3 linked regions of the Homo sapiens genome follow. The protein of the gene in region 1 purifies or fractionates together with the protein of each later gene. This does not show direct contact. Each region holds a gene or a part of one and is shown on either strand. Other genes may lie near its edges.

Region 1 (8,286 bases):
GAGGAAGAGAGAAGATTGGAATCCTTCTTCTTTTATAAATCTTTGTTCTTCCCTGGTGTTCCTTTTCCATTGATAGCTAAAGGGAACTCACCATTAAAGGTTTTGTGATGGACATGGCCACTTGGGTATCAAAAATCAATCACACTGGGTGACCTTTACTCCCTGTCAGGTCAGTAAGAGTCACCCAGTGTAAACAGCATGATATTTCAGACATGATATGTTTTTCCTAACAGGATTAAATGTGCATTTTTTAGCTAGTTTTACATATTTTTTTAAAGATTATCCCCTCAGGCCGGGTGCAGTGGCTCACGCCTGTAATCCCAGCACTTTGGGAGGCCGAGGCGGGTGGATCACCTCAGGTAAGGAGTTCGAGACCAGCATGGCCAACATGGAGAAACCCCGCCTCTACTAAAAGTATAAAAATTAGCCAGGTGTGGTGGCATGCACCTGTAATCCCAGCTACTCAGGAGGCTGAGGCAGGAGAATTGCTTGAACCCAGCAGGCAGAGGTTGCAATGAGCCAAGATCGCACCACTGCACTCCAGCCTGGGCAACAAGAGGAAGACTCTGTCTCAAAAAAAAAAAAAAGACTGGGCACAGTGGCTCACACCTGTAATCCCAGCACTTTGGGAGGCCGAGGCGGGCGGATCACAAGGTCAGGAGATCGAGACCATCCTGGCTAACACGGTGAAACCCTGTCTCTACAAAAAATACAAAAATTAGCCAGGCGTGGTGGCGGGCGCTTGTAGTCCCAGCTACTCGGGAGGCTGAGGCAGGAGAATGGCGTGAACCTGGGAGGCAAAGCTTGCAGTGAGCCGAGATTGCGCCACTGCACTCTAGGCTGGGCGACAGAGCGAGACTCCATCTCAAAAAAAAGAAAGAAAAAAAGAAAGATTGTCCCTTCCATTATAAAATGTAGTCTTTCAGAAGATTTCCCTACATAAACAGGCACTTATATATCTTTTCATTTTTAACAGAAATAAGATTATTTTATACATTTTTATATACATTTGGTAATTTGCCTTTTAATACTTGATAATACTTTTGTATTTTGATGCCAGTGTTACTTGATTTTTATATGGTTTATTGTGACACAGTAAGTTCTTAGCATACACTTATTACAAGTCCCTGTCTACCCTCGTACTGACTTCTTTCCCTTTTCCAGTCCTGCAAGTCAGATTACATGCTCCACCTTTCCACTCCTCCAACATAAATATCTCATGTAGTAAAAGTCAGGTATACCGCACTAAGGGCTTAAGATGACACATTAGTTCTTCAATTCAATGCCAACTTTATGAAGGGTGTCCTGAGACATATACAGTTAGCTTTTTTTTATTTTTTAATTTAGAGAGACACTCTCTGTCGCCCAGGCTGGAACTCCTGAGCTCAAGTTCTCCTCCCACCTCAGCCTCTCAAGCAGCTGGAGCCACAGACGTGCACCACCACTCTAGGCTAATTTTTTTTTTTTTTTAATTTTTCGTAGAGACTGGGTCTCACTATGTTGTCCAGGCTGATCTCAAACTCCTGCCTCCAGCAATCCTTCCACCTCAGCCCCTCAAAGTGCTGAGATTACAGGTGTGAGCCACCATGCCCAGCCACAGTCAGCTTTTGAATGCATCGTTTCTTGCATGAAGTGAGGTGCTCCTAACTCATCAGCCAGTGTGTCTGCCTGCCATATCTGTGTAATCTCTTTGCCACATTCAAGAGCAAATAACTACATGCACACACATGTCCCTGCAGGCACACATACACACACATGGCCCATTCGAGTGTGAGCTCCTGGCTAAGACCGTTTGGTTCATCTTGGTAGCTCTAGCTCCTAACACAGTGCCTGGCCGTCAGCACAGATCTGTGTGGTCACAGCCCTCTCGGAGCTCCGGTGAGCACAGGCAAGGAGAAGGTCCTAGCACAGGTGTCTGCTGCCAAGTCATAGTAACAGGAAGAGCTCTAGGAGCTAAGAGCAGGGAGAAGCCACTTTAGGCGGAAGTGGCCCGGGAAAGTGGACCGTGGGATCATGGGGGTGATCCCTTTAGAGCTGTGCTGGGGGTGGAAGGGCGTGATGCAAAGACTGGGCTTTGGGAACCAGTTTGTCGTCAGTGGGCAGGGCCTCAGAAGGAGGCAGAGCCGGAACCCAGGGCTGCCCCTGTCTTGAGAGGCCTGCAAGTTGAGGTCAGGGGCTCCTTTTCAACATAAGTGCCCATTGATACTGCAGAAGCCCCTGTGAGAATGGGTCCTTTGTGATCATCTGTGTCTGTAAAGAAGCTAATAGTCTGTTGCATCTTGGGATAACACATGTTCTTGTGTTCAGGGTCTCGACTCTGAAGACAGAGTTCCTGCCGCTCCTAAGTGTGTCATTTGTCTCAGAGAACAGCGTCGTGGCTGCTGTGAGTATTTTTCTTCATTCTCCCTCGGGGTGCACTGTATGTGATGCTCAGACAGGGAACAATGTGTGCTCTGTCACCCTAGCACAAAGCAGAACAGTTTTTTAGAAGAAACAGAGCTCACTTTTTTTTTTTTTTTTTTTTTTGAGATGGAGTTTTGCTCTTGTTGCCCAGGCTGGAGTGCAATGGGTGATCTTGACTCACCGCAACCTCTGCCTCCCGGGTTCAAGCGATTCTCCCGCCTCAGCCTCTCGAGGAACTGGGAATATAGGCATGCGCCACCATACCTGGCTAATTTTGTATTTTTAGAAGAGACGGGGTTTCTCCATGTTGGTCAGGCCGGTCTCGAACTCCCATCCTCAGGTGATCCACCCACCTTGGCCTCCCAAAGTGCGGGCATGAGCCACCGTGCCCGGCCTCAGAGGTCACTTTTTTTTTGGAGACTGTCTTGCTCTGTCGCCCAGGCTGGAGGGCAGTGGCGCAATTTTGGCTCACTGCAAGCTCCGCCTCCCGGGTTCACGCCATTCTCCTGCCTCAGCGTCCTGAGTAGCTGGGACTACAGGCGCCCGCCACCTCGCCGGGCTAATTTTTTTTATTTTTAGTAGAGATGGGGTTTCACCATGTTAGCCAGGATGGTCTCAATCTCCTGACCTCGTGATCCGCCCACCTTGGCCTCCTAAAGTGCTGGGATTACAGGTGTGAGCCACCGTGCCCGGCCGCTCACTTTTAAGAGTAAGAGGGGGTGGGGCACGATGGCTCACGCCTGTAGTCCCAGCACTTTGGGAGGCCAAGGCGGGTGGTTCACTTGAGGTCAGGAGTTCAAGACCAGCCTGGCCAACATGGTGAAACCCCGTCTCTACTAAAAACACAAAAATTAGCCAGGCATGGTGGCAGACGCCTGTAATCCCAGCTACTTGGGAGGCTGAGGCAGGAGAATTACTTGAACCCGGGAAGCAGAGGTTGTGGTGACCTGAGATTGTGCCACTGCACTCTAGCCAGGGCAACAGAGCAAGACTCGGTCTCAAAAAAAAAAAAAAAAAAGAGTAAGAGAGGCCTGTCGTGGTGAACACTCTGCCAAGGAGGTGGGCGGTGGGCAGTGCATCCTCCAGGGACTGACTGAGTCTTGTTTCAGGGCCATGACTGCTGCCCAATGCTCTTTAACTACGATGACCGCGGCTGCCTGACCTTCGTCTCCAAGTTAGATATTCCAAAACAGAGCATCCAACGCAACATGTCTGCCATGGAACGCTTCCGCAACATGGACAAGAGAGCCACAACTGAGGACCGCAACACGGCCTTGGAGACGCTGCACCAGAATAGCATCACGTAGGTGCCGTCTGTAGAGAGGTGGTCAGGTGACAAGGTGCCTTCCTGCCCCTCGCTGTTTCCTTACTGGGTTCCTACAAAAGCTCTATGCCCCTCAGGCCCAGACATTCTTTCAGGGACAAGTGCAGCAAGAAGTCTGTATCTTCCCGACCGCCAGGCTCTCATTTCCAGCTCGTGGTAGGGAGGGAGTCGCCACCACCTGGTCATTCTGTCCTTCAAGGTGCAGATTACAAGGCAGCAGCCAGCAGGAGCAGTGCAGACCTTGTTGCAATCTGAGGTGGTGGGGCCTCAGGGCAGCTGCTTCCTAGGGTACCCTTTCTCAGCTACTCGAGAACAAAAGGAGACATTCCTGAATGCTGCGTTCCCACAGTAGTGCACACATAACAGAAAGCGAAGTTACAGCCTGTTGGAAAAGGTAACTGTAGCTGTCGTTTCAAGTAATGGATACAAATAAGAAGATTATTTAATTAAAGGAACAGAATTTCTTATCATCATGATGACAAAGCTGAGGAGTGTCTCGACTGGGTTTTCATCAGGTATATGTAATTATGTAAGACAACAGAATTGTGTTTTGTCCAGAAAGTTTAATTTTTTTTTTTTTTTTTGAGACAGAGTCTCACTCTGTTGCCCAGGCTGGAGTGCAATGCCACAATCTCGGCTCACTGCAACCTCTGCCTCCCGGGTTCAAGCAATTCTCCTGCCTCAGCTTCCCAAGAAGCTGGGATTACAGGCGTGTGCCACCACACCTGGCTAATTTTTTGTATTTTTAGTAGAGACGGAGTTTCACCCTGTTGGCCATCCTGGTTTCAAACTCCTGACCTCAGGTGATCCAACCACCTCAGCCTCCCAAATTGCTGGAATTACAGGCGTAAGCTACCGTGCCTGGCCTGAAAGTTTGATTTTTAAGGTCTAGAGGAGAGGCTGGGCATGATGGCTTACACCTTTAATCCCAGCACTTTGGGAGGCTGAGGCAGGCAGATCACTTGAGGTCAGGAGTTCGAGACCAGCCTTGCCAACATGGCAAAACCCCATCTCTACTAAAAAATACAAAAATTAGCTTGGCATGGTGGTACACACCTGTAATCCCAGCTACTCGGCAGGCTGAGGCAGGAGAATTGCTTGAACCGGGCAGGTGGAGGTTGCAGTGAGCCAAGATTGAGCTACTGCACTCCCGCCTGGGTGACAGAGTGAGACTCCGTCTCAAAAAAAAAAAAAAAAAAAGGCACCTGGAGGAGAAATATATGCTTGATATTCTAAATTACTGTGTTCAGAGTTGGGTCCCATGGGATTTTCCCTTACTGAGAAGCCTTTTATGTTTAGAATCTTATTGTGGTATTGATGGTGGGAGAAGTAATGGAAACCTCTAGACTTCCTGTTTGAGAGAATTACAATGAAATGCAGGTTGTGCTTCATCTTCAGCGGAGAAGGGGCAGCTGTATATAAAATAGGCTGCAAATGCTGTATTGAAAAATGAGAACCAGAGACCTGGCACCATGTCTCACACCTGTAATGCTAGCGTTTTGGGAAGCCAAGGCAGGAGGATCACTTGAGGCCAGCAGTTCAATACCATCCTGGGCAACACAGCAAGACCCCATCTCTACAAAAAAATTTTTAAGTTAGCTGGCTGTGTTGGCACGCACCTGTAGTCCCAGCTACTTGGGAGGAGTGAGCTGTGATTGTGCCACTGTACTTCAGCCTGGGCTACATTGTGAGATCCTATCTCAAAAAAAAAAAAAAAAAAGAACCTGAAGGCATAGCAAAACTTACCTTTTCTCCACATTCTTCAGGTTTCTCCTTCTATAGCAAAACTCACCTTTTCTCCATTCTTTAGGTTTCTCTGTCTTGAATGGCTCCGAGTTACTTCTTGTGAGTTTCTCTTACGTTTCTATACAGACCAAGTGTTAAGGAAAGAAAAAGCTCTCATTGCCTCTCTGACACTTCTAGATGAAAAATGAAAAGAACAAACCCTTGCTGATTAGTCTACTTTTATTTGCAGAAATTAGGTGCTCTTTGCACTAGAACTGTGTCAGCTAACTTTTTCTGTAAAGGACCAGATAGTAAATATTTTAGACTCCTAGAGGCCATAGGTCTCTGTTGCAACTACTGAACTCTGGTTGTGGCAGGAAAGCAGGCACAGATGATGTAAACAGATGAGGTGGCTGTGTTCCCGTCAAACTTTATGGACACTCAAATTTGAATTTCATGTAATTTTCACTTCATGAAATAATAGTCTCCTTTTAATTTTTTTCCAGCTATTTAAAAACGTAAAAGCCGGGTCAGGTGCAGAGGCTCACGCCTGTAATCCCAGCACTTTGGGAGGCTGGGGTGGGCGGATCACTTGAGGTCAGGTGGTCAAGACCAGCCTGACCAACATGGCAAAACCCCGTCTCTATTAAAAATACAAAAATTCGCCAGCCTGGTGGCAGGTGCTTGTAATCCCAGCTACTCGGGAGTCTGAGGCAGGAGAATCGCTTGAACCTGGGAGGTAGAGGTTGCAGTGAGCCGAGATCGCACCACTGCACTCCAGCCTGAGTGACAGAGTGAGACTCCATCTCAATAAATAAATAAATAAAATAAAAATGTAAAACCCCGCCCCCCTTTTTTTTTTTTTTTTTGAGATGGAGTCTCTGTCACCCAGGCTGGAGTGCAGTGGCACGATCTTGGCTTACTGCAAGCTCTGCCTCCTGGGTTCACGCCCTTCTCCTGCCTCAGCCTCCCAAGTAGCTGGGACTACAGGCGCCCGCCACCATGCCTGGCTAATTTTTTTTTTTTTTTTGTATCTTTTAGTAGAGACAGAGTTTCACTGTGTTAGTCAGGATGGTCTCGATCTCCTGACCTCGTGATCTGCCCACCTCGGCCTCCCAGAGTGCTGGGATTACAGGCGTGAGCCACTGCACCTGGCCTTTGTTGTTTTTTTTTTTTATTTAAGCTCACAGGCTGTACGGGCATAGGCAGTGTGTGCCATAGTTTGCCATCCCCTTCCCAGCGTCGGGGAAGAGGCGGGTAAGTTCTAGACATCTCAAAGGAGAAAGAAAAATATTGTCTGAGCAATGGATGATTGTCTTGAAAGCTTCCAGATAATTAGGCTAAGACAAGTTGTTTCATTTATCTGTTCCCCTGCTTAGCTTGGTCGGAATCTAGTGGTGTGTCTGCTGCTAACATTTATGATGATTCACTTCAGACTCAAGGAGGGCTGTTGGCTTATCTGCACTGGCTGTCTTGGAGGCTGATTTGAGAGGTTTTGTTTGGAGCTATGGAATTCAGTCATGCTTCATCATGCCTCTGGTTTATTTAAAAACAAACAAAAATACTGTTTTCGCCATGGCTGTGGTCCTACCCACAACCTGCTCCCAGCATTTGAGTGCTGTGTGGGCTGGGTCATTCCTGCTTCCCCAGGTCACGCTAACCAAGGCAAGTTCTTAACTTCTCCCCTTGCCAGTTTTGTCTTTCCTGGACATCTGGTAATAATATGCTTTGGGGTATTTTCTGAGCCAGATTGTTGCAGCCTAATGTTCATGGATAAGTTCATAATCAGGAGTTAAAAGATAATTCATTTCCTGGTGGAGCGTGGTGGCTTATGCCTGTAATCCCAGCATTTTGGGAGACTGAGGCAGGAGGATCACTTGAGCCCAGGAGTTCAAGACCAGCTTGGGCAACATAATGAGACCCGCATCCCAGCTCTATTTAAAAAATAAAGAAGAAGATAATTCATTTCCTTAAGCTGCCCTTACACTATTAGTCAGGAATGTTTGTGTTCACTTCCACTACATACCTTACGATCTCTTTTGCTTTGCTTTTTTTCAGTCAAGTCTCTATTTATGAGGTGGACAAGCAAGATTGTCGCAAATTTTGCACTACTGGCATCGATGGAGCCATGACAATTTGGGATTTCAAGGTATTTTCTACCTAACAGAACAAATTTTGTTTGTGTTAAAACTTTTTTTTTTTTTTTTAAGAGATAGGCTCCTTCTCTGTCACCCAGGTTGGAGTAAGTGGCACAATCATGGCTCACTGCAGCCACCAACTCCTTGCCTCCAGCAGCCCTCCCACCTCAGCCTCCCAAGCTGCTGGGACAGCAGGCATGCACCACCATGCTCCGTGAATATTTTTACAAAACTCTTATGAGAAGAATGTTTCTCATTTCTTGAAACAAAATGTTAAATCTAGTATACAGTTTAATGTCCTAATGTAAGACATTAAACTGGAAATCTCTCATTTTTTTTTCTTTCTTTTTGAGATGGAGTCTTGTTCTGTCACCCAGGCTGCAGTGCAGCGGTGCAATATTGGCTCACTGCAACCTCCGCCTCCCGGGTTGGAGCGATTCTCCTGCCTCAGTCTCCCAAGTAGTTGGGATTACAGGAGCACACTACAACACCCGGCTATGTTTTGTATTTTTAGTACAGACGGGGTTTCACCATGTTGGCCAAGCTGGTCTTGAACTCCTGGCCTCATGTGATCTGCCCACCTTGGCCTCCCAAAGTGGTGGGATTACAGGCGTGAGCCACCATGCCAGCCTTGGAGATCTCTCTCTTTTTTTTTTTTTTTTTTTTTGAGACAGAGTTTCGCTCTTGTTGCCCAGG
Region 2 (6,724 bases), on another chromosome or scaffold:
GTTGTGATTCTACATGTCTAAAACCCATGGCAGACATCACTAATTCTCATGGTCCACCTACCTGTTGAACTCCAACATGTCCTACTCAATACAGCACCCCAGAGAGTCACTATCAATCAGCATATACTTTGTCTATGTACTTCCTGGCCTGACAACAGCTATAACATGAAACTCATAAGTAGCTGTATCTCAGCAGCAGATGGTTTCCCTCTCGTTAGAATAAACACTGGGTATTATATCAAAGTTAAGGAAATCTTTTGCTTTTGATCTGAGGACCCAGAAAATTTGGAACCAGTCTTCAAACTTAGTGGTAACATGGTATCACTTAATTAACTTGATTTAATACTAATAATGAACAGGATTCTGGAATGTTCACTAATTGTGTGAATTCTGAAATCGTGTTGTTTCCTCGGCTTGGTATTCCCTTCCTGTTTTCTATTTGCCAAACTCTTAGATAGCCTTCAAGGCCCATTGAAATGCTCCCATTTTCACACCTTTTCCTTGACATTCTCTCTTGGAGAAGTAATTGCTCCCCATCTGTTATTGTACATGAATTTACTCTCTTCTCTATTATAGCTTGTTTACTATTGAATTTTATTCATTGCTTGTGTATCTTACCTAGAATCTAGATCCCACAGGATAAGGATTGTATTTTAAATATTTTAAGCAGCCCTTAGCATGTAAATACTTGCCTGAATGACAGTGAAACTGTGCTTTCACGTGCGAAATACTTTGGGTAGTTTGTCTTAAGAAAACACCCTCAAGTCCTGAGAAAACCAACCAAGTCAATATATTAGGATAAGACTTCCATATGGGGACCAACTAATCTCTTCTAGTTTACATTTGAAGCAGCAATTGTTGAAAAGAAAAATATGAATATTTTAAAATAAAAAAACTAAAATTTAAAATCATAAAAACATCCAAGAACACTTCATGAAATTTCTATTTTTAAATTTTGGAGCCAGGAAAATCTAAGTATGACTTGAACTCTAAATGCCATAAGAAAAGATTAATAAACTCAATTAGATAAAAATAAAAATAACCTTTTTATTTATAGTAAAAGCTATTATAAAGCGAAACTCAAAATGCAAGAAATATTTGACATTCCTGTTGAAAAGAGCTCCTACAAATCAGTAAGAAAAAGACCATCAAAAGGGCAAAGAAAATATAGAAATACAAAAATATAGAAAAGAAAATACAACTGGCTATTAGGCATGTGAAAAGATGTGCAATCTCATTTACATTAAGAGAAATGCAAATATATGATACCATTTTTAAAACATCAGATTTGAAAAGATTAAAAAATGTTTTATGACAAACACATAGAATAGGTAAAGGGGTGGGAAAACATGCATTCTTCTACACGGCTGGAGAAAGTATAATTGATAAAACCTTTAAGAAAGGCAATTTAGCAATATCTCCCTTAAATGCCCTCCAACTGACCTTAACTTTCACTTTTAGGAATTGATCTACAAATAGGCTTGAACATATGTAAAATGACTTGTGTATAATGCTATTCACTGTAGCACTGTTTGTAACTGCAAAAGATCAGAAACCACCTAAATCAATAGGGAAATGGTTAAGTAAATTATGGTACATTTATTTATATAATAGAATTATTATGCAGTCATAAAAATAAAATTGTTATCGGAAAGTGGTCCCAATCCAGACCCCAAGTGAGCGTTCTTGGATCTCACACAAGAAAGAATTCAAGGCCAGTCTGTAAAGTTAAAGCAAGTTTATTAAGAAAGTAAAGGAATAAAGAATGGCTACTCCATAGGCAGAGCAGCCCCGAGGGCTGCTGGTTGCCCATTTTAACGGTTATTTCTTGATGATATGCTAAACAAGGGGTGTATTATTCATGCCTCCCCTTTTTAGACCATATAGGATAACTTCCTGATGTTGCCATGGCATTTGTAAACTGTCATGGTGCCGGTGGGAGCGTAGCGGTGAGGATGGCCAGAGGCAGAGGTCACTTTCATTGCCATCTTGGATTTGGTGGGTTTTGGCCAGCTTCTTTACTGCAAACTGTTTTATCAGCAAGGTCTTTATGACCGGTATCTTGTGTTGACCTCCTATCTCATCCTGTGACTTAGAATGCCTTAACCATCTGGGAATGCAGCCCAGTAGGTCTCAGCCTTATTTTACCCAGCTTCTATTCAAGAAGGAATTGCTCTGGTTCAAATGCCTCTGAAGGGAATAAGGAAGTTCTTTATGTATTGATAGGAAATTACCACCAAAATATACTGTTAATGAAAAAAGCAAGGAACAGAACACTATATATAGTATGTTAGTATTTATGTACACAAAGGGGTAAAATCTTATATAGGTATTTGCCTGTAAATGCATACACTGTATCTGGAAGGATGCCTAAGAATTAAGTGACAATAGTTGGTTGTCAAAAGAGGAACTAGGGTGGAATGGAAAATTACCACAGTACATATTTCTTACCTTTTGAATATTGAACAATATGAACAAATTATTTGAAAACGAATAAAAACTAAAATGAATAAAATACAGAACCATTGGCTAATGAATACACTGACCTTTAACTTAGCAAATTGAAGAAAATCTTAGTTGCCCTGGCATCTTGATTCAATTTTTGGAGAAACAAAAGGAAGTATGATGTTATTCAGAGGCATTGGCCATTTAAGTTATTCATTACCCTAAGGGTTGACAGAATTAGAAAAATCTACGTATAAAGTCAAGGACGGTGATATAAATTCATGGATATAATTTAATGGTTATCTTTAAGGAAAACAAGGGGTATTGGGTCACATCTCTGCTCTTAGAAGGTGATGCCACAGAATAATGAACAGATCATATAAACTCCCATAGTGCCACTGTTAGCCAGATATGAGCTGGAATTCTGTTCCTCAGCCACTTTCTCTGGTGACTTCTGGCAAAGCTAAACACTATAGGGGCTGCACGTGGTACTCATGGTGGCTCTGATTTCCACCTAAGGCTGATAAATTCCCTTCTTAACTGTCCACATTGAAGTGAATTGAAATTCTTTGTGACTAAACTTGATTGGCTCTAGGGTATTTGAACCCAAGAATTATTTTACTCTTTGTATAGTTCTCAATTTGTACTTCTGATGTGTTGCCCTATTCAGGTACCCTAAGAACCTGTGTATAAATTAAGGATTTCTTAGGTGACTTGGCTCGTTCAATGTTATGCAACCAAGAGATATTTGTTGAACATCAACTATGCCAAGTGAATGTGGGGATGAGTAAGAGCCAGCTACTATGACTTCAGGGGGCCCATACAGTCTAGCAGCAAGGTCAAGAGGGTGTGTCTTGCAGAGCAGGAGCTAACTGCTAGGCTGGAAAATACGGGAGTTTTAGAATGCTTTGGAATTCAGGTGGGTCATACACTACTCAATTTGTGTTTCATGTGGTGTGGATTCTAGGGAACTGTTTCAGAGAGAAATAAGAGATGTAAACATAGATTATTTATGTTGATTACTCTTACACACTCAAGTAACAGAAATGATAAAGGAAAATAGAAATGTTAAAGTGAATGCTGTGTCCCATGTTGCTTGTGGTTGGATCATCAATGTGGTGAAGTAGCACCACCTTGAGGCAGATGACATGCTGTACCTCTGTGGGCTTCCCGGGCCTCCTCCATATCTGGAATCATACAAGAGGCACCTGCACAGAACGTTTTCACATTGGGGTTTTCACATATTGTACTAGTGACATTGGGGTGAGGGGGAGAGGGAGTGGGGCAGAGGTCCCGCGGCAGGAATATGGACAGAAGCAGCCTTGTTTAAGGGCACTTGGTTCTACAGAGGCCGTTGGTCTGTTCCTTAATTGGGTGTGTTTTTCAATTATTTTGGTGCTTTTAACATATTTTGTCTGTAAGGGGATGTTAGTTGTAAATCTAAAGGAAAAATTGTGTATCTAAAAATTAATCAATCTGGCTGGGCGCGGTGGTCACGCCTGTAATCCCAGTGCTTTGGGAGGCGGAGGAGGGTGGATCACCTGAGGTCAGGAGTTCAAGACCAGCCTGGGCAACATGGTGAAACCCCATCTCTCCTAAAAATACAAAAATTAGCTGGGCACGGTGATGCGTGCCTGTAATCCGAGCTACTCAGGAGGCTGAGGCAGGAGAATCGCTTGAGCCTGGGAGGTGGAGGCTGCAGTGAGCCGAGATTGTGCCATTGCACTCCAGCCTGAGCAACAGAGCAAGACTCCATCTCAAAAAAAAAAAATTAATTAATTAATTTTCTTTTTTACCTTTATACATGGGGTTAAACTAAGTGATCATCAATGTCTATTTCAGCTAATAAAACATTATGATTTCCTATAATTTTACTTTCTTGAATCTATCACGGAGATAGTTTCTGATCCTGTTAATAATTTGCACCATCTAGAATTCTTATGTTAAAAACATTAAAACTGCAGCTGGGCGCGGTGGCTCACGCATGTAATCCCAGCACTTTGGGAGGCCGAGGTGGGCGGATCACGAGGTCAGGAGATCGAGACCATCCTGGCTAACACGGTGAATGAAACCCCGTCTCTACTAAAAATACAAAAAATTAGCCGGGCGTGGTGGCGGGCGCCTGTAGTCCCAGCTACTTGGGAGGCTGAGGCAGGAGAATGGCGTGAACCCAGGAGGCAGAGCTTGCAGTGAGCCGAGATCGCGCCACTGCACTCCCGCCTGGGCCACAGAGCGAGACTCTGTCTCAAAAAAAACAAAACAAAACAAAACAAAACAAAACAAAACAAAAAACATTAAAACTGCAAGAACAGTGACTATTAAACCCACTTTTAACTTTCTCTTTCTACTCTGTTCATTTCACTTGGACCGTTTGTCCTTTCTGCCCCTCCAAAGGATTAGTTCAAATTAATGTCTCACTTTAAATACTCTGATCCACCCTGATTTTGTTGTTCTCCCAACATTGACTAACTGCATTTACAGTCAAATGCTAAATTGTATGACGTTAATTCTCTTTTTTTTTGTATGACATAATTTTCAGGTGCTTAACCTTACTTCCCAATTAGGCTGAGAGCAAACTGGTGAACAAGATTCAGACCTTATTCTTCTGTTATGTCCTCATGATCCTGGGATCCACAGGAAATGCTTTAAAAAGAATTCGGTTAATTTGTACCATCTACACATTGATTTCACCCATGTTCATGTCCTTAAAATATCATCATACTTGTCATCAAGTATGACTGTTACCGAAATGGTGCTGTTACCCAATGACCAAGAAGGGGTATGTTTTCCATTTCTTCCCTTTTGTAAAATGCCAAAAAAGAAACCAAATAGTAAAAGCACTGAGATTAAAGGAGGAGAATGGGAGGTAAACAACTACTTTTGTGCTAAAAGTGTCCTATGGCATTTATATATATTTTTTCCGCAATTAATCCTATTCCCAACTCTTCACCAAGGATAGTACTGTGTCATGGTTACTATACCCTGGGCTGACATTTAGTCAGGAGGCAACAGTTGAACCAGTTGTTTCCAGCTAGTATCCATTTTGACTCGGTCTCTATATTATACTACTTGTTAAATATTTTTAGTATCTCCCCTCAGTAAAGCTGATAGACTGGCAGATTCTAAATACACCCACCCATTCTTGTGAACAAATATGAACTCCAGAATTTTTCCAAACGCTTCAGTTATGAAAGTGATGTTAAGAAGGATTTTATGAAAAAGCATTCAGTATCATTTGATTTTAAAGTTTGTAATTGGTTATGCTATACCTACTTGACTACCTCTAATACCTATTGGCTAAGGCACAGTGGCATGTGCCTGTAGTTCCACCTTTTCGGGAGGCTGAGGCAGGACTGCTTGAAGCCAGGAGTTTGAGGCCTCAGTGCACTATGATCACACCTGTGAACAGCCACTGCACTCCAGCCTGGGCAGCATAGCAAGTCCCCATCTCTAAGTAATATTTAAGAATAATACCTATTGCTTAGCTTATCTTCACCCATAGGACCCTGAATTGCCTGGAAGTGTTTTAAAGTGGGAATCTAGTCAGGTGAAGATCGAAAGCAAACAGAAGTCGCTGTGAGTAGGTAAGTACAAGAAATAGATTTGAGGTGAAAGAAAGAGAATTTTGGAGGCTGGGAGTGAATGACTGCAGCTGCTAAGCTACTTTGCACTTTCTAGTCTAGGTCTTTGGGCAGTGATACTACATATAGGTATTCAGCTGCCATCCAGAAGGCTATGGAATCACTCCAAAGGCTTCAGTAGTGCTCTGACATCATTCATGACTCTCTTCTCTATCATCTTATATCTATATAGTCTTATAAAAACCCTACCAAACTGTTCTTGTTAAGAGTACAGTACTTGGTGGTAGAAGCAGAAAACCTTTCCTCTTAATTAACCATACATTCATAATTGTTAAAGTCAGAGAAAAATAAATTATTCAACACTGACATTTTATTTTCTGAAGTTTTATCATTTTTACAAAACAAAACAAAATGAAACAAAAAGCAGGTATCAAAAACAGCAAAGAGTTTATAGAATTTCTGCACCAGTTTGCACATAAGTCAGTGATTACAAAACTGGCATCCAATGTAAATACTAAGCACAAGCTCACTTCCCTCTTGGTCAGGTGGTTTGTTTTAGAGCTACTCGATATTTATAACTTTTTATAAGCACCGGTCATTTTTTGAGAACTGATTTGGTTTGTCCAACAAAGTAAACAATTTTTTGCTGTGTGGCAGTTTCTTTTTTTAGAAAACACTGAGCTAAAACACAGAATGTG
Region 3 (8,286 bases), on another chromosome or scaffold:
CTTGGTTTTTTGGGTTTTTTTTGTTGTTGTTTTCATTTAATTCAAAAACCTGGAAAGTAGCCAGCAGTAGGTTCTGGTTTGGGGGGAAAGACATGGAGAGTATACAACCTTCTGGACACCAGTATTAATAGCTAGCTAAGATTTCATTATTGACTGTCCTTTGCCTTAAGAGCTGGCTATGCACTGAGTAATTTTAAAGCATACAAGATCAGCAGACAAACAGATCAGTTCCCGAGAGTCCTGGTTTTTTCTCTTTATTCACCTGGGTTAGTGGCTCAGTCTGTACTTAGGTTGATAACTAACAATCTGTTCTCTCACTTGGAATTTGGCATCCTTTTGCTCTCTTGAAAACAAAACATGATTAAGTACAATGTAGGATCTGGAGGAGAACAGAGAACATATTAAGGGTGTAGTCAAGTCCTAAAAAAGGATGAGCTTTGATTAAAGATTCTCGGCCAGGCATAGTGGCTCATGCCTATAATCCCAGCACTTTGGGAGGACGAGGCGGGTGGATCATCCAAGGTCAGTAGTTCAAGATCAGCCTGACCAACATGGAGAAACCCCATCTCAACTAAAAATACAAAAAAAAATTAGCCGGGCATGGTGGCGCATGCCTATAATCCCAGCTACTTGGGAGGCTCAGGCAGGAGAATCACTTGAACCCAGGAGGCGGAGGTTGTGGTGAGCCGAGATCGCGCCATTGCACTCTGTCCCAGGCATAAAAAGATACTCATCTCAGTTTTGTGACTTGTTTGGTGACTAAATCCACTTCCCCTCTGTCTCTACTTTCCCATCCACCAAATGAAAGTTAGGAAGAATGCCAACTTAGGAAGAGCTTGGCAAGTGCAGTACTTTAAAAATAATGAAATTATCATGGCCTTTGGATTAACGTATTTGGTTTTGTTTTGTTTTTATTTTCTAGTTATTAAAGAGGGTGTACGGGAGTTTCTTGGTAAATCCAGAATCAGGTATGTAGTCATGTGAGCAACTATGGAATGACATGGGAAGAGAGGTGTCCTTTTTATATTATGCTTTTTTTACCCAAAGGATTTCGTTTAAATATTATTACAAATATTTCTGCATGAGCCCATTCCTAATTTCAACTCCGTCCATAAAAATAGCTTTTAAGGGGCTTTGCTTTGTCCAATATGGAACACAGTAGAGGTACAAAATTGATGTGTGACATTTTTAACATTTACTTGATGGGGCCACATGACTCTTACTTAATCTTTCAGCCAGAGGGCCACATTTGTTTGTTCATGGTGATTAAAATGGCTTTGAAAAGAATGAGCAAACATTGATTCCCACCCTCGGCCCTTAGTAATTCTGCATACTACATATTTGGAGAAAGAAGAGGAATATTCACCACACTATTCTTGTGATTTCAAGTAATAAAAATCAGACCCTTTCTTAATCCAGTCTTCTAATAGGTTGTCTCAACATTCATGGCCAGAGGAATTGAAAGGCACCGTGTCATCCTTGAATAGAACAGCTATGTTATACTGCTTTAAAAAGGAGGTTTAAAGTGGAAAAACTGAACAGCCTTTTTACCCTGTGATTCAGTGGCATGTCTCAAATTCTGAGGCATTTAGCAGGACCCCAAAGTGAGAACCAGGTAGTAAGACCATTGGAACATAATATTTTTTACTCAACTATTACAACTTTGGTACCTTGATTAGAAAAGTCTTCTAAGAAGGAAGTTCTCTGTCACTCTTAACAGCAGTTACTTGTGCTAGCTTATTTCATCACCTCACCTATTTTTTCAGACAGTCTCATTCTGTTGCCCAGGCTGGAATGCAGTGGTACAGTCATAGCTCACTGCAGCCTCCTCCAAATCTTGGGCTCAAGCAATCCTCCCGCTTTAGCCTCTCCGGTAGCTGGGAACTACAGGCACATGCCACCATACCCAATTAATTTTTTTAATATTTTGTAGAAACAGAGTCTCACTGTCTGCTGCCCATACTGCCAAAACAGAGTAAGGAGGTCTCAAACTCCTAGCCTTGAGCAATCTACCCACCTCAGCCTCCGCCTCCCAGAGAGTTGGGATCACAGGCATGAGCCACCATACCCAGCACCTTTTTTTTTTTTAATCTCCAAATTGGCGGGATGAATGTGTCACAGAAATAAAAGCCAAGATAACACTGTAGGCTTTTGGCAAAATCAAGGTATTAAAAGAAAGAAACAAACAGATCTAGAACAGAAAAATCATGTCCAAAGTCTTGGGCATGCTTGTCACAGCCAACATCCTGACATGGAAAGTTTATGTTTCTGTCCCTGGGCCTCCTTCTACCTCCCACTAAATCATAGACATTGCCAGATTGCAGACCCTGTCTTCATAGAAGTGTGAAATGTAAAAGTGTGTGAAAGTAGTGTCTCAACCAGGTGCAGTGGCTCACACCTGTAATCCCAGCACTTTGGGGAGGCCAAGGTGAGTGAATTGCTTGAGCTCAGAAGTTCAGGACCAGCCTGGGCAGCATAATGAGATACCTGTCTCTATAAAAAATACAGAAATTAGCCAGGCATGGTGGCAGCCACCTGTAATACCAGGTACTCAGGTGGCTGAAGCACGAGAATCGCTTGAACCCAGGAGGCAGAGGTTGCAGTGAGCTGAGATTGCGCCACTGCCCTCTAGCCTAGGCGACAGAGCAAGATTCAGTCTCGAGAAAAAAAAAAAAAAGACCGTAGAGTCTCTCCTCCTCTTTTTTAATGGGTTTATCTAGGCACGTTTGGAAAACTCAGCAAGTTATACTAGATTTTTACTTCTCTTCATCCTCAGTATATTCTGTTCATCATGTTAGAAGCCTTACTTAAAGACAGACTTTACCTTAGCTATAGTTTTATTTGCTCTTATTTGGCTTCCTAAAACTAGCAAACCTCAGCTCTAAATCTTTTCTTTTTTAATCTAACCTTGTAATCTGTGTGCTTATTTGGTTTTCAAGTACCCAAAATAGAATGATGATTGATATTATTTAATACTGGAGTGCCTCTCCAGTATTAAATAAAATGTGCTAAGCATTATCTAGAGCAAAGATTTAGCCCATCCTCCCGAAGAGCCCATGCTCAACAAAAAACACAGACCTCAGCCGGGCGCGGTGGCTTATGCCTGTAATCCCAGCACTATCGGAGGCCAGGGCGGGCGGATCACCTGCATTCAGGAGTTCAAGACCAGCATGACCAACATGGAGAAACCCCGTCTCTACTAAAAGTACAAAATTAGCCAGGCCTGGTGGCGCATGCCTGTAATCCCAGCTGCCTAGGAGGCTGAGGCAGGAGAATCGCTTGAACCTGGGAGGCGGATGTTGTGGTGAGCCGAGATCATGCCATTGCACTCCAGCCTGGGCAATAAGAGTAAAACTCCATCTCAAAAAAAAAAAAATACAGATCTCAGGAATGCTTTTGGGAAAAAATGAAATAGTAATGAGGTTTCAGATACTTAGAAGTGTGAAAGCCATACAGTTCTGGTGAAGTTATTCCCGTCAGTTGCCTAGAATATAAAATGATCCTCAGTGATGTAGAAATATTCTTGCAAAAACATCTCTAGGCAGTTTGACACTTATTAATCATTTGATTCTATAATCAAGTGTTCCAGCCGGCTTCTGGGAATTCATAGTGGACATGCTGTAAAAAGGCAGGTCATCCAATGGTTTCAGTCCATGTTCTGCACCCGTATTGATGACCTGTCATGTTCCACACACTTTAAGTATTGAACATTCTTTTAATGCTCACAACATTCTCCCCTATCTCCGCACCCCCTGCCCTGCTCCTTTTTCTTTTTTTCTTTTTTTTTGAGACAGAATTTCACTCTTGTTGCTCAGGCTGGAGTGCCGTGGCGCGATCTCAGCTCATTACAACCTCCACCTCCCGGGTTCAAGCAATTCTCCTGCCTCAGCCTCCGGAGTACCTGGGACCACAGGCGTGTACCACCACACCCAGCTAATTTTGTATTTTTATTAGAGACGGGGTTTTGCCATATTGGCCAGGCAGGTCTCGAACTCCTGACCTCAGGTGATCCACCCACCTTGGCCTCCCAAAGTGCTGGGAATACAGGCTTGAGCCACTGTGCCCAGACCACCCTACCTGCCCCCCACCACCAATTTTTTTTTTTTTTTAACAGATGAGGAAATTAACAAGTCAGGCAATTTTTTTTGTTTTTGTTTTTTTTTTTTGGAGCTGGAGTCTCGCTCTGTTGTGCAGTGGTGCAATATCAGCTCGCTGTAACCTCCACCTCCTGGGTTCAAGCAATTCTCCTGCCTCAGCCTCCCAAGTAGCTAGGATTACAGGCGCCCGCCACCATGCCTGGCTAATATTTGTGATTTTAGTAGAGACAGGGTTTTGCCATGTTGGCCAGACTGCTCTCAAAACTCCTGACCTCAGGTGATCTGCCCACCTTGGCCTCCCAAAATGCTGGGATTACAGGTGTGAGCCACCACACCCAGCAGTTTTTTTAAGGTCACAAAATGACAAGACTAGGATTTGGACCCAGTTCTGTTCGACTCAAAATAGAGTGCCCTACACTTATGTGTCATGCTGCATTTGGCAAGTCACGTCACTTCTTTGAATCTCCTTTTCCCTCTGCAAAACAGTAACCTTATCTAGCCTGCAGACTTCAAAGGTGGTTATGGAGATCAAATGAAGTAAAATGTTTTAAAAATTGTACAATATATACCAATAAAAGCTATTGGGGAGGTATATGTATGAACAGGTAGTTGGTTTTTCTACCCTGCCACCTCATAAAGAGTTTGCAGTGGCACGTAGAAGGGTTTATCTTATTATCACAAAGCTACCCATTTGCTGGCCATACTGATACTTGGCACATTAAACTATCAGAGAAATATATGTGGCTCCTTTACAACTGTGTCTAGAAGGGTACATTTCCAATCAGAGTTCCCAGGTTCTGACTTTCTCCCATTACATATTTGTAATTAGTCATCTTTGATACTGATTCAAATTTTTGATTAACATTAATTATATATATTTACAAGAATCTTATAAAAATTAAGATTTTATTTCACCTCATTTTGCCCTGTGAGATAGATGGAAATAGACTATATTCTACCCAGGTTAAAAGTACAGATAATGAGACAAAATGTCAATAGAACCTGAAAAAAGATTTTTTTAGTTGCCTCTAGTCTCTGTTTACTTGGTATAGATAGTATGCTGCTTTTTTTTTTTTTTTTTTTTTTAAATGTAACTGCTGGGTTGTTTTTTGTTTCTTGTTTTTTCTTTCCCTCCAGGATACAATGTCTCTTTGCTATATGACCTTGAAAATCTTCCGGCATCCAAGGATTCCATTGTGCATCAAGCTGGCATGTTGAAGCGAAATTGTTTTGCCTCTGTCTTTGAAAAATACTTCCAATTCCAAGAAGAGGGCAAGGAAGGAGAGAACAGGGCAGTTATCCATTATAGGGATGATGAGACCATGTGAGTATAGAATTTGGTCCTGAAGCCTGGATATGGCTGCTACACCACCATGGCACTTACTGAAAGAAATATGGCTTGGTCAAACTTTCAGCTGTATTGCGTGAAAATGTTTTTCTCATAAAATGTCTTAAGCCAGGAAGTAGATGATAGGGCAGAAATCAGCCACTCCTCCTACTCTCCAGATACTGAGAGCTGACAGATGGTGGAAAGAGAATCCAGTGCTTTCCTTTAAGGCACCACTGTTCTGAGTCATGTTTAAGAGTATAGCCTGGATAATCAGCAGGCAGGGTGACCATAGGTCCATGTTATATTTACAAGTCAATAAAATCTACTTCTGATAATTTCCATCTGCTGCCTCTCTTAGGGCATTCATTTTGTGCACTGACTTTGTTGACCATAAATATCATCTCATTTGGCACACCTTTATATTATGATTTAAGAGATTTATGACTTTAGCCTTCTGATGTACTTGTAGATCAAGTTATTGACAAAACCCCATTCTGATTCTGTACTTATCCTCATGGATTTTGTTCCTCTCAGGTATGTTGAGTCTAAAAAGGACAGAGTCACAGTAGTCTTCAGCACAGTGTTTAAGGATGACGACGATGTGGTCATTGGAAAGGTGTTCATGCAGGTATGGAGCAGACATCTTGGGGGAAACCCATGCATGGCGACTTATACCTTTGCACCCAAACATACCATGAGCGTAGGAAAGAGATCTAGCAACTCTACTGATGTTAGAATTTTTTTTTTTTTTTTCGAGACGGAGTTTCTCTCTTGTTGCCCAGGCTGGAGTGCAATGGAGTGATCTCGGCTCACTGCAACCTCCGCCTCCCAGGTTCAAGCAATTCTCCTGCCTCAACCTCCTGAGTAGCTGGGATTGTAGGCATGCACCACCACACCCAGCTAATTTTGTATTTTTAGTAGAGACGGGGTTTCTCCATGTTGGTCAGGCTGGTCTCAAACTGCCGACCTCAGGTGATGCCCATCTCGGCCTCCCAAAGTGCTGGTATTACAGGCATGAGCCACCATGCCCAGCCTTGACGTTAGAATTTGTTGAAGATTTAATAGACAACTCCCACAAAACTCAGTGAATATTTTTTGTTGCTGCTGCTGTTGTTTTGAGGTGGAGTCTTGCTCTGTCGCCAGGCTGGAGTGTAGTGGCACGAACTCAGCTCACTGCAACCTCCGCTTCCTGGGTTCAAGCAATTTTCCTGCCTCAGCCTCCCAAGTAGCTGGGATTACAGGCACGCGCCACCACGCCCAGCTAATTTTTGTACTTTTAGTAGAGATGGGGTTTCACCGTGTTGGCCAGGATGGTCTCAATCTCCTGACCTCATGATCCGCCCGCCTCAGCCTCCCAAAGTGCTGGGATTGCAGGCATGAGCCACCGCGCCCAGCCTGATATTTTTTTTCTCAGTGGTTTAGTTTTGCAGGACAGAACTAAAGGGTAAGTTGAGAATTAAACATACTAACTATGAATGAATGTTATGCATCCTTCCTACTGTGGGGTCTTTGACCTAAAACTTTGTCAGGTTTCCTAACCCTAACCTCTTGTGTTTCCTCAGATTTCTAGTAAGGTGGCTGCTCTTGGTTTGGTCCTAAGGTCTTTTCAGAATGGACTGTATAGCCAATTATTTGGTAGTAGATAACGCATGAACAGGTAGAGTTGTTGAACTGACAGACTGAGCCTGAGTTTGGATGGGTCACCATAGAGTACTTCCCTCACAAGAAGCTCATCTTAAGAAGAGTCATGAGAGGCCAGGCGCGGTGGCTGACGCCTGTAATCCCAGCACTGTGGGAGGCCGAGGTGGGCGGATCACGAGGTCAAGAGGTCAAGACCATCCTGGCCAACATGGTGAAACCCCGTCTCTACTAAAAAAATACAAAAAATTAGCCGGGTGTGGTGGCAGGCACCTGTAATCCCAGCCACTTGGGAGGCTGAGGCAGGAGAATCTCTTGAACCTGGGAGGCAGAGGTTGCAGTGAGCCAAGATTGCACCATTGCACTCCAGCCTGGGCAAAAAGAGCGAAACTCCGACTCAAAAAAAAAGAGAGTCCTGAGAGTTAGCAGGGCATTTTGTAATTGGATTTTTGGTGTAGTTGCATTCAGGTCATTGTGTACCAGTCTGCTGGCCAGTTAGTTGCTGCCTCTAGGATGGACATGAGAGTTCATTGGTCAAGTGACATTCAGGCTGGTTTCTTCTGAGATGGCTCAGCATTCAAAATCTAGTACAATGGTAAAATTTTTTGAAAACGTTACTACCTTCATTCTGTTCCTTGGCAGGGTGGTAAAGATTTTTAAATTCTGAAGCAGAATCTCTTTTGCCAAATAGAGTTGAAAGACAGCTGTGCTTAACAGTAAAGATACTTTGCATAGCCTTCTAAGTGGCTAGGAAAATCTTCAAAAGTGATATTCTCAACTGCTCCATCCCTAGTGGCTTTTGTATTTTGGCTAATTAATCAGAAACTAGTTTGGGAGTCACTATACAGAAAAATTGGAATATTGACACTTCAGCATTTGCTAGTGCTGAACTTGATGAAGGAATATATAAATATACATGTATCTCTTGGGTCCTAAAAGTAAGCCTCTAGAGAGGCATTTCATGTGTTTTTATGCAGAATTGACAGGGGAATTAAATGCAGTAGCTCAGAAATTGGGCTAAATCCAGAGTAACAAAACTAATTTTAAAAGCTCTGAAGTATATATTTAGATTTGGCTGGTTTTTTACCAATCTTATTCCATTTTATTCCAGGAAACAACTTATTTTTATACTTTAAACAGATCTTATCTTGGAGAGTGTACCGGAGATTTGTTCCTTAGGAGAATTTTGTGTATTCTTTTTTGGCATATGATTTAAATGCC

What was found. Proteins that work in one complex are often made in the same cells at the same time.
Region 2: the proteins of ARPC1A (region 1) and ARPC5 fractionate together in Homo sapiens (co-fractionation; 10 studies listed by BioGRID and IntAct, with this or other methods). This does not show direct contact.
Region 3: the proteins of ARPC1A (region 1) and ARPC2 purify together in Homo sapiens (affinity purification with mass spectrometry; 10 studies listed by BioGRID and IntAct, with this or other methods). This does not show direct contact.

The regions. Positions count from the first base shown.
Region 1 is NC_000007.14:99,356,033-99,364,318, forward strand, and holds part of ARPC1A (actin-related protein 2/3 complex subunit 1A), read left to right. Parts: intron 1-2,307; coding exon 2,308-2,383; intron 2,384-3,512; coding exon 3,513-3,706; intron 3,707-7,510; coding exon 7,511-7,601; intron 7,602-8,286. UniProt on the Homo sapiens protein: Probably functions as a component of the Arp2/3 complex which is involved in regulation of actin polymerization and together with an activating nucleation-promoting factor (NPF) mediates the formation of branched actin networks.
Region 2 is NC_000001.11:183,619,819-183,626,542, forward strand, and holds the end of ARPC5 (actin-related protein 2/3 complex subunit 5), read right to left. Parts: 3' UTR 1,028-6,724; downstream 1-1,027. UniProt on the Homo sapiens protein: Component of the Arp2/3 complex, a multiprotein complex that mediates actin polymerization upon stimulation by nucleation-promoting factor (NPF).
Region 3 is NC_000002.12:218,233,430-218,241,715, forward strand, and holds part of ARPC2 (actin-related protein 2/3 complex subunit 2), read left to right. Parts: intron 1-922; coding exon 923-968; intron 969-5,234; coding exon 5,235-5,421; intron 5,422-5,961; coding exon 5,962-6,055; intron 6,056-8,286. UniProt on the Homo sapiens protein: Actin-binding component of the Arp2/3 complex, a multiprotein complex that mediates actin polymerization upon stimulation by nucleation-promoting factor (NPF).